3 linked regions of the Homo sapiens genome follow. The protein of the gene in region 2 purifies or fractionates together with the protein of the main gene of each other region. This does not show direct contact. Each region holds a gene or a part of one and is shown on either strand. Other genes may lie near its edges.

Region 1 (3,648 bases), on a different chromosome or scaffold from region 2:
CCCTTTGAGATCCCTGGCTTCTTCCTCACACCGCCTCCTTGGTCTGGAGTGCCCTCCTTTCCTCACATTTGCCGGCTGATGCTCTACACATCCTGCATCACCCTGCTCAACAACACTTTCCCAAAAGCCTTCTAACTTATAACCTCCATAAATGTCTTATTTCCCCAGTCTCCCATTATACTTCGTCGGTACTCATCCACAGCATTTTGAGGCTTTGTGTTCCTATCTAGCTTCCCAACATGAAGAGAGAACCATATTTTAGCCAGTTACATATCCAACATAGAGCCTGGCACATGGCTGGATGTCCCATTTGCTTCTGAATTGATCAGATGGAGTGAGTACAAAAGTAAGAATGAAGAACATTGAAATAATTCATTCCAAGGGAAAATCATGTGTTCCTAATTCTATTTCTTAAGAATAATAAGAGGTTCTCTAATAGAGCACCTCTTTATGATATAAAATCAAGTGCCACAGTTCTTTGCTTGACTCATACAAAATTAGCATAATTTTCTGAGAGAACAAGCAATAGAGAGGAATCTAAAGAGATACTCACCTAGTCTCTCACTCTGTAATGCAGCAGCCTGATTCATGTAAAACACACCAATTTCATTTCTAATGTTACCCATTCTCTTTAATACTTGTACATAGTGTTCTGGATTTTGGCTTTTCAAGTCACTAAACTGCAAGATTTCATTAGCAGCCTCATAACATTTACAACTAACAGAGAGTTGACTTTCTAAGTCTGTAGACAAATCAGTTGCCCATGCAAATCCTGAAAAGAAAAAAGGGATACATCAATGCGAATCATGTGATTCCTTCTTCCTCAGTATCCAAATGAACCTGAGATTCTAAATTCTAAGTAATAAAAAATGCAATATAGTGTAAGTATACCAAGATTCAATCAATACAACAATATTTAAGTTTCATAATAAAGATCTATTTATTTATAAAATTATATTTCTTGGGATATTAATGTTGGATAAAAATATTTTCCTGCCTATGAATATCAAACAATTTCTGTGACCCAGGTTTTCCCAGGTACACTTGTTTATTAGAATGGACCTAAAGTTGTCCACTAATACAAAGTAAAGTTGCTATTTTTAACTAATGGAAATAGTTCTTGAAATAATGTCCCAATATTAACTTTAAGTCACTGAAGAGGCTGCTACAGAAGCCCTCGAAGATTAAAAATGCCATCTAGTGGGGACTAGAGTAAAAAGAATATTTAACTGAAATTGCTATGATGGGAGTAGTAAAAATACACCAAGGACTTTCCTACTACATTAAAACATGATTATTTGAGAAAGACGGAGAGAGGGGAAGAAAGGGCAAAACTATTACAAAATAACACATTTTTCCCTCTCCCCCAGTATACTCCTCTAGCTATGAATTGTCTAAAACTCTGGGAGGCAAACATCAAGTAATATTCAGTATAACAATTTAAGAGCATAATAAAACAACCCCATGAGACATTACAGAAGCACCTTCAGAAGACTCATCTTTTACTTCATTCACTGTGTTAATGGCAGCGTGGTTACACACTGTGCTGAGGTAAGAGGGAGGGATATCGCTGCTGCGGATCAGATTATTCTACTTCCCAGTTTTAAAGCCTGACAATTCCAAACAGAGTGACATATTAAGCAAGACAGGTGGCTATGAACTAACTTTAAAAACAATGATCACTTTATTTCAGCCCCAAGGAATCATTCAGAAGGTTAATTAACCTCCTTCACCAACTGTTATACCTTTCAAAAGGAAACCTATGGCTTTGTTAGCTGACTACAAGTGTTACCTAGAAGAACCTCATGAAAAGAAGAGTGTAAAAAGCTGACACAAGGCTGGGTGCAGTGGCTCGTGCCTGTAATCCCAGCACTTTGGGAGGCCAAGGTGGGAGGATCGCTTGAGTTGAGGAGTTTGAGACCAGTCTGGGGCAACGTGGTGAAACCCTGTCTCTAACAAAAATACAAAAATTAGCTAGGTGTGGTGGCGCATGTACTAGTCCCAGCTACTTGGGAGACTGAGATGGGAGGATCACTTGAACCCAGGAGGTGGAGGTTGCAGTGAGCCAAGACTGCCCCACTGCACTCCAGCCTGTGTGGCAGAGCGAGACTGTGTCTCAAAAAAATAAATAAATAAAATAAAATAAAAAGTTGACACAACTGTCTTCATATCTTACTTTATATTTAGTTCTAGTTATATAAACAGTAATTATAAAATACTTAAAAACCATTTTATACAAATACACAAGATCATGCTTAATCTTAAAATTAGGAAATGAATAAAACAGCAGGCCAGGCGTGGTGGCTCACACCTGTAATCCCAGCACCTTGGGAGGCCAAGGTGGGCTAGCCGGGCATGGTGGCGCATGCCTGTAATTCCAGCTACTTGGGAGGCTGAGGCAGGAGAATTGCTTGAACCCGGGAGGCGGAGGTTTCAGTGAGCCAAGATTGCACCATTGCACTCCAGCTTGGGCAACAAGAGCGAAACTCCGTCTCAAAAAATAAATAAATAAATACAGAGCAAATATCAAAACTCTAATATTTCTACCCCTTTTCTGAATACTCAAATAAGCATGAGCTAGACTGCACAGTCCCACTGTGAACCACGTGGTCCAAGCCTGTGGCACACCTTGGCAACTGGACTCTCTGTGAAGGCTATGCAGGATCTCCTGGTCTTCTTTTGTTTGGTAATGAAACTCTTCAAGGTGTGCTGCTCTATTATTTGCATTCTGGGCCAGCATTAGTTGGATATCACCACAAAGTGTCAAATATTGAGAGAGAAACAACAGCACTTCGGAAAGCATATTGGTGCAGAGGCAGCAATAAGTATCTGTTTAGAAAGGGAGGGAAGAAGAAAAAACACAAATGCAGAAAAAAATTAATGATCATAGGAAATATGAAGAAACTGTGTTACCAGCTGAACGCTTTGTAGCACTGTATCTATTCTGTTTATTTTAGGTCCAACAATACATATTACGGCTTCATGTAGTTCAAAGCAAAGAGATGTTAAACCACTGAGCAGAAACTAAAATAGAAGGTAACACACACAGGATTGGAAACAGTCATTTTAAAATAAAGATTTACTAGAAAAATAGGAGTAAACTTCCACTGTGATTCAGATGCCTTCTCTGTTCTCTCTTCCCAGTGCCTATTAAACATATTCATTTATAGTGGCTTACCATGGCTTTGCAAAGCTAATTTAATGTATCGTAATGCTCTTCCGTATTTCTGAAGACTCATGGCAGCATCGGACAAAACATAATAGGCCTTTGATGACTTGAGAATCAGCTGAAGTTTCATTTTATGTTGCCAAGAGCCAGGGATCATTCCAGATTGACTGGAATAATTGCCCTTCTGAAGGGAGCCCACTGTGACATGGAGAGAAAAAAAAAGACAGCACATTTCATTTGACTGTAAGTCTCATGCACAAAAAATATTTTCTGTTTCTTGATGGAAACACTCTAGACTTAGGTGACAAGACTGGTAAATACTATGCTTTACTGCTTAAATACACTGGAGTGAAATGGCCGTGTTAAAAGACTCTCACTTGGGAGTTCTAAGGCCTTCTGCTTCCCTGACATCGGCAACTCTGTCATTCTCTTCCAGTGTCACTGACATAGCTAACCTCATGAGTGACACCTGTCTCCTT
Region 2 (4,365 bases):
CACTCTCCCAAAAACTCTCGTGAAGGGAATAAAAACAAATAATGCTTAAGCATTAATAGTTTCCCATATGACTTTCCCAGTTTAAATATATGTTTTAAGAGAAAAAAAAAGTAGTCCAGAAACACTTTTATATTTCCTGAATTGGCCTTTGCACGATAAAGCCTTCTCAGCTCTGCATTAAATGAAATCCTGCTTGAATGGAAGACAGCAGACTAGTCCGTTTCTCAAACTCTTCAATCATGAGATTCCCAACTGAAGAAGATAGTGATGCTCCCCACAGGAAAACTCATTTCCTCCCCAGAAATCAAGTAACACCTCTTGCTTTCTGCTTCTTGCCCAGTAACATCAGGACTCATCTTGAGTTTATCTGATCATAGACTGGAAATCCCCAAGACAGAAAGATCCTGTCTCAGCATTTCTGTAAACACCAGGGAATGTGCTCCTCCTAAACTGAGTGTTTCCCACGAGGCAAGAATACTATGTACAAACCGCTATACTGTTTCAAAAGAACAGTGTAATGAAAAAGGTAACATCATGTTGCTCTAAAACCAATCACATTGACCAAGGCAAAAACAGAGCTTATAAAATTAAAAGAGATAGTCTTATATTTCCTACTTAATATTATTCATCAATTTATAATTAAAAGCTGTTATTTGCATGGGATATACTTTCCAAATAATTCCTTCTATTCACCTATACCTTTCTCACCACTATCTCAACTATGTGACCTGAGTAGAAAAGCTATTAGCCCCACTGGGTGAATTTTCACTGATGCAACTACAGCAATTTCTAAGTCCATGAGAACTGCTAGGAATGTTTAACAAAATCCAATACCTGCATTATAATAATGCACTTTAAAAAAATGATTAAATACACATCCATAGCTGAATGCAGAGATTCCAAGAACTTTGAATGCATAATTGCTACAATCATAGAGAGACTGGATTACGAGCCACGGCTGGTACGGATGGATTCCTTCCTCCCATTAAGGCACTCACAGGCAAGTGTGATAGACAATGTTGCTCTGATGACTGGCAGTGAGACCAGAAGATAGTGTGAAGGGCAGCAAGGAGGGTAGGGTGGGATGCGATAATGGAAAATGGGAGTGATTCATTCTACTTAATGCATATACGTTTTATGGGTTTAAATCTGGAGGGAAACAACTTTTTAAACTCAACTCCTTGTGTGTGAGAATTAAATGGAAGCACATCTTGGACCCCACTTTTTATAGGTTTAGTGCCACCTCAAAAAATTCCATACTGATCCATTCTGAAACAACTGCTTTTCTTACTGGAAAGCCACAAAGTTGGTGCAGAATCTATGAAATGGAAAATTAGACCCAAGCCAACATGCTCATGCATAAGCTTGATTTTAATGAAAAGGTACACGGAGCAGCCGCACCTGGAGGAAAAGCCCCCTCAGGGCTCCCCACCTCCAGTATCCCCATGTGCTTGAGTTTGCATCCTTACCCTGTCCCTGACTGTGTGACCTTGGGCAAGTTAGTTAACCTTTCTAAGTCCTGGCTTGTTCATCTTCAACATGGACATAGCAGGTTTGCTGTGAGGACTAAATGAGCTCATACACAAATAGTTTTAGCTCAGTACCTGGTACATATGAACATTTAAGAAACATGTCCTTCTCGTGATTAGATGTGACACTCTGACCATTTTAGAAGCAATTACGGTTCAGCTATCATATCCCAACATCTTGTGATAACCATTTTCATTTTTTGCTTCTAGCTCTTACTATTCTTTTCATCACAATATTTTAGGGTGGAGGTATTTGGGGGAGGAGGTAAGCAGTTATATACATCCCATTTTCCCACTGTTGTTCAAAGCAAGGTGAAAAGCCAGGGAAATAAACACATGCACTGAAGAGAAATTCAGTCTTTAGGATATGATGTGATAGGTGTATGGAATATAAACAAATCATATAATTTCAACCTCTCACATATAGGGCATCAAATCATAGGTAGGTCTTATTTTAAAAGAAAAGCCAAGCAGCATTAAAGAGGATAGAGGGAACCCATATGGGCCTATTGCTAGCTCAGTATTGGTGACTGTGAAACAGGGATGGGTGAGCTAGATTACGGGGGTGTTTCATGGGGTCTGACTTCCAACAGGTGGCTAGCTTTAGTCATGTTCAGATGCAAAACCGTAATGAGTTTGAGTATGCAAGTCCCAGGGATTCTGTTGAAGGCCATCTTTTCTCGGCCATCAAGGGAGACAATTTTCTAGGTTTAAGCCTCCCTGGCAAGTTAGCAAGCAGGGAACTGCCTGCCCTAGCTTGCACCTGTCCCCTGAAGGGGATTCTGGCCTGACGGTGAAGACCCACCATCCCTTCCAGACAGCCCATTCTGCCGCTGGGGCACCTCCCGACAAACGGGGGAAGCCCACTAGGAAGTGGTCACGACCAACCAAGCCACAAATCCTCAGGGTGTGGGATTTCCACCTCTATACCACGTCTGAAAACCGAAAATAGGCGCCCGCTTGCCATACTGCAATGGGATTCCCCCCAGCAGCAACCCCCCCCTCCAGCTTGCATGTTTTATTAATAAATGCAAGATGGCACACGGAGGCAAAGAATGGGAGGTAAGGCATCTGCAGCTGGACCCGAACCAGGGCAGTTTGCAAAAATAAATAAGAAGCATGTGACAAGAAGCAGGTCTCCAGGCTGGAGCTGAAGCCCTGGGCTGCCCCACGCACCCTCGCCTGGCTCCCCCGGCCAGGGGGATGAAGGTCAGCGGCAAGATCCCAGCCCTTCCGAGCACGCATCCTGCAAACCTTGACCGGTCCCCCCACCCCCCGCCCCGACCACAAGACTCGGGCAGTGAGGCAGGGGAAGCTCTGGCCGCGGCCGGCTGCGAGGACACATACCTGCTGCCCGGGCTCGGGATTCGCTCGGCTCTGCAGCGGCGCCGGCCGCGGCTCGCGCTCCCGGGGCTCCCCTCTCCGCCCCCCCGCCCCCTCGCGGCCCCGCCGCTCCCTCCGCCCCTCCGCCCACCGCGCTCGGGGGCGCGCGCGAGGCCTCGCGCCGGCGGCTTGGCCGAGCCCGCGCCTGCGCCCTCGCCTCCCGCCGGCCGCGCGCGCGCGCCCCCGAGGCTGCGGAACGGCGGCGCGGCTGTCTAGGAAACCGCGGCGTCGGCTGGCAGGGGCTGGCGGCCTGAGCTGGGCAGGGGGCGGAGGCGGGGGCTCGGCTGTCTCCGGGGCTGCCACGCAGAGCGGGCTTCGTGGCGTGGGTGAGGGGGTCGCGGGGCAGGGTCGGGGCCTGAGTGCGAGCGTGTGGAGAGGCGAGGGGGCCGCGAAGGGTGGGTTTGACGGGGACGCAGGCGGGGCGCAGAAGCAACAAGTGCGGAGGCCGAGGGCGTCGCTCGGGGAAGCGGAGGACCCCCGCGGGATTTCGTACAGCTGAGAATGGGAACCTCCCGTCGCTTTGGCGCAGCGCTTTGCAGTTTCCAGAGCTCTTTCCCAGTTGCTCCGTTTCATCCGCGCGGGGCGCCCGGTGAGGGAGCGGATGGCACGCAGTGCCCGCTGCGCTTGGAGGCCACCGAGGGGAAAACACCTCTTTCTGTGTGGCCGGAGTCATAGCACGGTCAGAGTGCCTTGACTCTCAGTTGGCTGCCTGGGAGAAAAATACCTGTCAGTACATTCATTTGATGGCCTCAGCTCAGGACCCTTGTAGGACCGTGTTTCTCCTCTTTTTCCGTTTTTCGTTATCTGACTCTTAAAAAGGCTTTTTACACGTCCCCATCTCCTTTCCCCGTGAAATCCCAGTACCGCAGATACACTGTCGACCTGCTTATGTGCTGTATGTGTTATCCGTGCTTGATGCATAAAAAGTAACATTGCGCCCCTTGGAGGCAGCATCGCCCCGGTGGAGAAGCCTGTCCTAGGGCCATGATTGCCAGTTACCGGGTGGGTTAAACGGAACCACTGAGCAATCTGGATGCACCCACAGATATTCTCTGTGGTTAAAAAAAAAGTCCTCACCCATAATGGGTACTACTCTAATTAATGTTTGCAAGGGCTGCTGTGAATACGGCCATTTAAGCAGCTTCTGGATTCATAGTAGCTTATTATCGTTTGTCTTCTCCACCAATTCTTGCTAAAAATATAGCCATTTTCCTATAGGGTGTTGCGATTTTTATCTTAAAATATTTGAAAAGATGGGAAACCCTTGTTTCTAGGACACGGAGTTTCAGAATGGCTTTTGGCTCTGCAGATAGGTTTGATTTCTGATTCTTGTACCTCTTCTAAAGTGTTTTTATTTGATTAGGTCCAGTTGGCCTCCCAGGAATGTCCTTTGTCTTTTCTTCCTGCCGTAGCTTTTTTAGTATGGATAAAATGAAAATGGTAGAGTTGAAGG
Region 3 (3,648 bases), on a different chromosome or scaffold from region 2:
TTATTTTTATTAATTAATTAATTTTATTTACTTTTTTAGACAGAGTCTCACTCTGTCACCCAGGCTGGAGTGCAGTGGCACGATCTCAGCTCACTGTAACCTCCGCCCAAGTGATTCTCCTGCCTCAGCCTCCTGAGTAGCTGGGATTACAGGTGCCCACCACCACACCAGGCTAATTTTTGTATTTTTAGTAGAGATAGGGTTTCACCTTTTGGCCAGGCTGGTCTCGAACTACTGACCTCAGGTGATCTGCCTGCTTCGGCATCCCAAAGTGCTGGGATTACAGGCGTGAGCCACCTAGCCCAGCCTCAACAACTTTTTAGAATGAGGAGCAAAAACAATCAAATGACAACCCACTCTTGTGGGAAAATCTTACCAGGAACCCTTACGGAGTTTTCTGGTTTTTTGTTTTTTGTTTTTTGTTTTTTTTTTTTTGAGACAGTTTCCCTCTTGCTGCCCAGGCTGGAGTGCAATGGCGTGATCTCAGCTCACCGCAACTGCTGCCTCCTGGGTTCAAGCAATTCTCCTGCCTCAGCTTCCTGAGTAGCTGGGATTACAGGCATGCACCACCATGCCCGGCTAATTTTGTATTTTTAGTAGAGACAGGGTTTCTCCATGTTGGTCAGGATGGTCTCGAACTCCCCACCACAGGTGATCCACCTGCTTTGGCCTCCCAAAGTGCTGGGATTATAGGCGTGAGCCACTGCGCCCAGCCCAGAGTTATTTTTGTAGTTATTTACTTAAAAGAATTTTCCCACTGTTAAGAGTGGGTAGATAGCTAGCTAGACATGAATGGGAGGGAAGAGCCCCTGAGAAAAGGGAGGTCTGGAAAATCCCACATCCCAGAGACCATCAAAAAGATGCATGCTGGCCAGGCATGGTGGCTGATGCTTGTAATCCCAGCACTTTGGGAGGCCGAGGTGGGTGGATCCCTTGAGGTCAGGAGTTCAAGACCAACCTGGCCAACATGGTGAAACCCCATCTCTACCAAAAATACAAAAATTAGCCAGGCATGGTGGTGCATGCCTGAAATCTCAGCTATTTGGAAGGTTGAGGCAGGGAGAATCGCTTGAACCTGGGAGGTAGAGGTTGCAGTGAGCCGATACTGTGCCACTGCACTCCAGCCTGGGCAATAAAGCGAGACTCTGTCTCAAAACAAAACAAACAAACAAAACATGCATGCTAGATATGAGCAGAGAGGAGGGAAAGAGGGTAAAGGAGAAATTCCAAAGAGACATTCAGGTGCAGTAAGTATGGACCTAACCGCTGTACAACCTTCCTGGGGTGGAGGTAATGAGCAATGCAGCCATTAGGTGGGATTCACATCCAACACCGGCTGTACATGTGCACCAACTACTAGTAAGAGAGGGTCCCACAAGCTTAGAGTAGAAATTAGGTGGGAGGAAAAGGTGGGGACTTAAGGCAGAAGCGGGAAAACTAGACAAAGGAAAAAGGCAGAAACTTTAAGACAGAGGTGGGAACTTCAAGAAAAACTCCAGCATCATAAAAACCCGATGCAGAACTCTCAGGGCTGCTGGCTCACTCTCTCAGCATCCCACTCTGCCTCATCTTTCAGAACGTACTGTCTCTCTCCATATAAATTCTCTGTTCTCTATTTCCCTTCAGAAAGCTCTCTGCTATCTCTGAATTGTCTCTTGGCCAAAATCTTTCTCCCAAGATGACTAAGGGCTGAGAATATCCCCACTTCCCGGTAACACCACCAGAGCTGTCTTCAAGCTCCACTTTAATGTGAAAGAAACTGGTTTTATGACTCCAACCCCACGTTCACAGAACAATCGAACTGGATTTCATCAAGCACTGGTCAAGCACTGCTACCTCTGTCTTGCCACACACGCCCAATGTCACTGAGGATTTATTCTGCACAGCGCCAATCTCACTCTCCAGTTTCAACACGCAGTCACCGAGGCCACCCAAAAAGATCAGGCGCACAAATGCATCCTCCTCACCCAGCCCTCCGGGGCCCGCCAGCAGGAACTCCTGTCTCCCTATCCTCTTGACGATCGGCGGCCTCTCCTCACTGCAGTAGGGAAACAGGTCCTGGGAGACGCCTGTGCTGTAATTGTGGATGATGTACTGAGTGGTCAGAGCCAGACACAGGAAGTGGCCGTCCACAGCCACAGCGAGGGGCTGCTCGGCAGTCGACACCTCCTTGACGATCTGCACCCGGTCCTCGTACACCAGAAACATCTGGATGGTTCTGCGTTTGACAGAGATGATGCAAACTTCTACACAGAAGGGGTCCCCACTCACAGGGTTCTCGTTCAGTGCAAACGTGGCTGCCCCCTTGATGCGGGCCCCCGAAGGCACTGGCTCGAGGTTCAGCATGTTGACCAGGCTGATGGAGTTGTCACACAGCACCAGCAGCCTGTTGAGTGCTGAGGCCGCACGCAGCTCGTTCACGGGCTTCTTGAAGCCCAAGTGTCTCTGCAGCTGTTTGGTGGCAGTGAACGTGGCTGGCCCAGCAGGCACTGGCCTCTCCTCCAACAGGAAGTGGTAGACGAAGCAGTCGTTGGTGCCCACGTAGAGGTCCCTGCCGCAGCACTCCACGCACTCTATGTTGACGCGCTCCTTGTCGCCCATCAGCAGCTCCCGCTCCACAGCAGAGACAAGCGTAAAGGCTTTGATGCTCATCATGTCTACTGGCTGATCTGCTGGAAGAGAAAGAGGAAAACTAATTTTAGAGGAACAAGGAAGAAGCAGAAACAGAGGCTGCAATAATGATACGTGGATTCCCTAGTTGTCATTTTCATTAAAGAAAGTCATTCCACGCTATCAAAAAATGGAAAGAAACCATTTCCCCACAGACCTCCCCCATCAGACAGCAGAAGACCCAAGAAGAAAACCACAGACACATACACACACACACACCCATATACACATATGTATGTGCTTGTGATCACGTGCCATCCTGCTCAGTCCCCACACAGAGTCACCTGGAGCCTCCTCACATTGCTCCTGGGAGACACGCTTGAAGGCAGAAGACAAATGCATGCATTCACCCACGGGCAACATAACAAAAGGATTTCTGTGAGGCAGGAGGATGGCTTGACCCCAGGAGCTGGAGGCCAGCCTGGGCAATATAATGAGACCCCATTTAAAAAAAAAAACAAAAAGGATTTCTGAAAAAGGCAGAAATGATCCTCACTGATCTTCCCTGAGTTTCTACAGCTACTTGAATATGCACTTTAGTCAATGAACACAACCACAGTCACAGGATCCTGCCAGGAACACCGAGGCAGACGCCAGGCCTTGGATTCCTTTGTGTTCTTCCCAATAAGGCAGGCGCATCAGCCTCAGCTCCGGAGTAAATGTATTCATGTGGAGAGTAAAGGTGTGCCTCGGATCTCGAAAGGCTTTCAGATGGTGAGTGGAGCTATTTAGTGGATGTGTGGACCGACCGGTCCCTGGCTCCCATTGGAAGTGAGACTTTCCCACACACTAGCCCGTCGCCTCCTACTTCATCTTCTGCAGAGAACTGTGGCTTCACACTCCACAAAGTCACAGGGAGAAGATCAGGCAAGGTGGCCTTTCTGACTTCTCAGGCAGCCAGAAGCAAACTCAAAGGCACAGTCCCTGTGAGCGGGAGCAGGGCAGGGGATCAGAGAGCTGGAAAGAGGACTGCAGAGA

Evidence for each region.
Region 1: the proteins of TMEM266 (region 2) and EDRF1 purify together in Homo sapiens (affinity purification with mass spectrometry, with the first as the bait; one large-scale study listed by BioGRID). This does not show direct contact.
Region 3: the proteins of TMEM266 (region 2) and TGFBRAP1 purify together in Homo sapiens (affinity purification with mass spectrometry; 2 studies listed by BioGRID and IntAct, with this or other methods). This does not show direct contact.

Annotation. Positions count from the first base shown.
Region 1 is NC_000010.11:125,740,182-125,743,829, reverse strand, and holds part of EDRF1 (erythroid differentiation-related factor 1), read right to left. Parts: intron 3,368-3,648; coding exon 3,179-3,367; intron 2,830-3,178; coding exon 2,629-2,829; intron 1,611-2,628; coding exon of another isoform or gene 1,591-1,610; exon of another isoform or gene 916-1,590; intron 773-915; coding exon 554-772; intron 1-553. UniProt on the Homo sapiens protein: Transcription factor involved in erythroid differentiation. Involved in transcriptional activation of the globin gene.
Region 2 is NC_000015.10:76,058,528-76,062,892, reverse strand, and holds the start of TMEM266 (transmembrane protein 266), read right to left. Parts: upstream 2,909-4,365; 5' UTR 2,877-2,908; intron 2,739-2,876; exon of another isoform or gene 2,653-2,738; intron 1-2,652. UniProt on the Homo sapiens protein: Voltage-sensor protein present on the post-synaptic side of glutamatergic mossy fibers and granule cells in the cerebellum. Despite the presence of a voltage-sensor segment, does not form a functional ion channel and its precise role remains unclear.
Region 3 is NC_000002.12:105,305,647-105,309,294, forward strand, and holds part of TGFBRAP1 (transforming growth factor-beta receptor-associated protein 1), read right to left. Parts: intron 2,673-3,648; 5' UTR 2,656-2,672; coding exon 1,968-2,655; intron 1-1,967. UniProt on the Homo sapiens protein: Plays a role in the TGF-beta/activin signaling pathway. It associates with inactive heteromeric TGF-beta and activin receptor complexes, mainly through the type II receptor, and is released upon activation of signaling.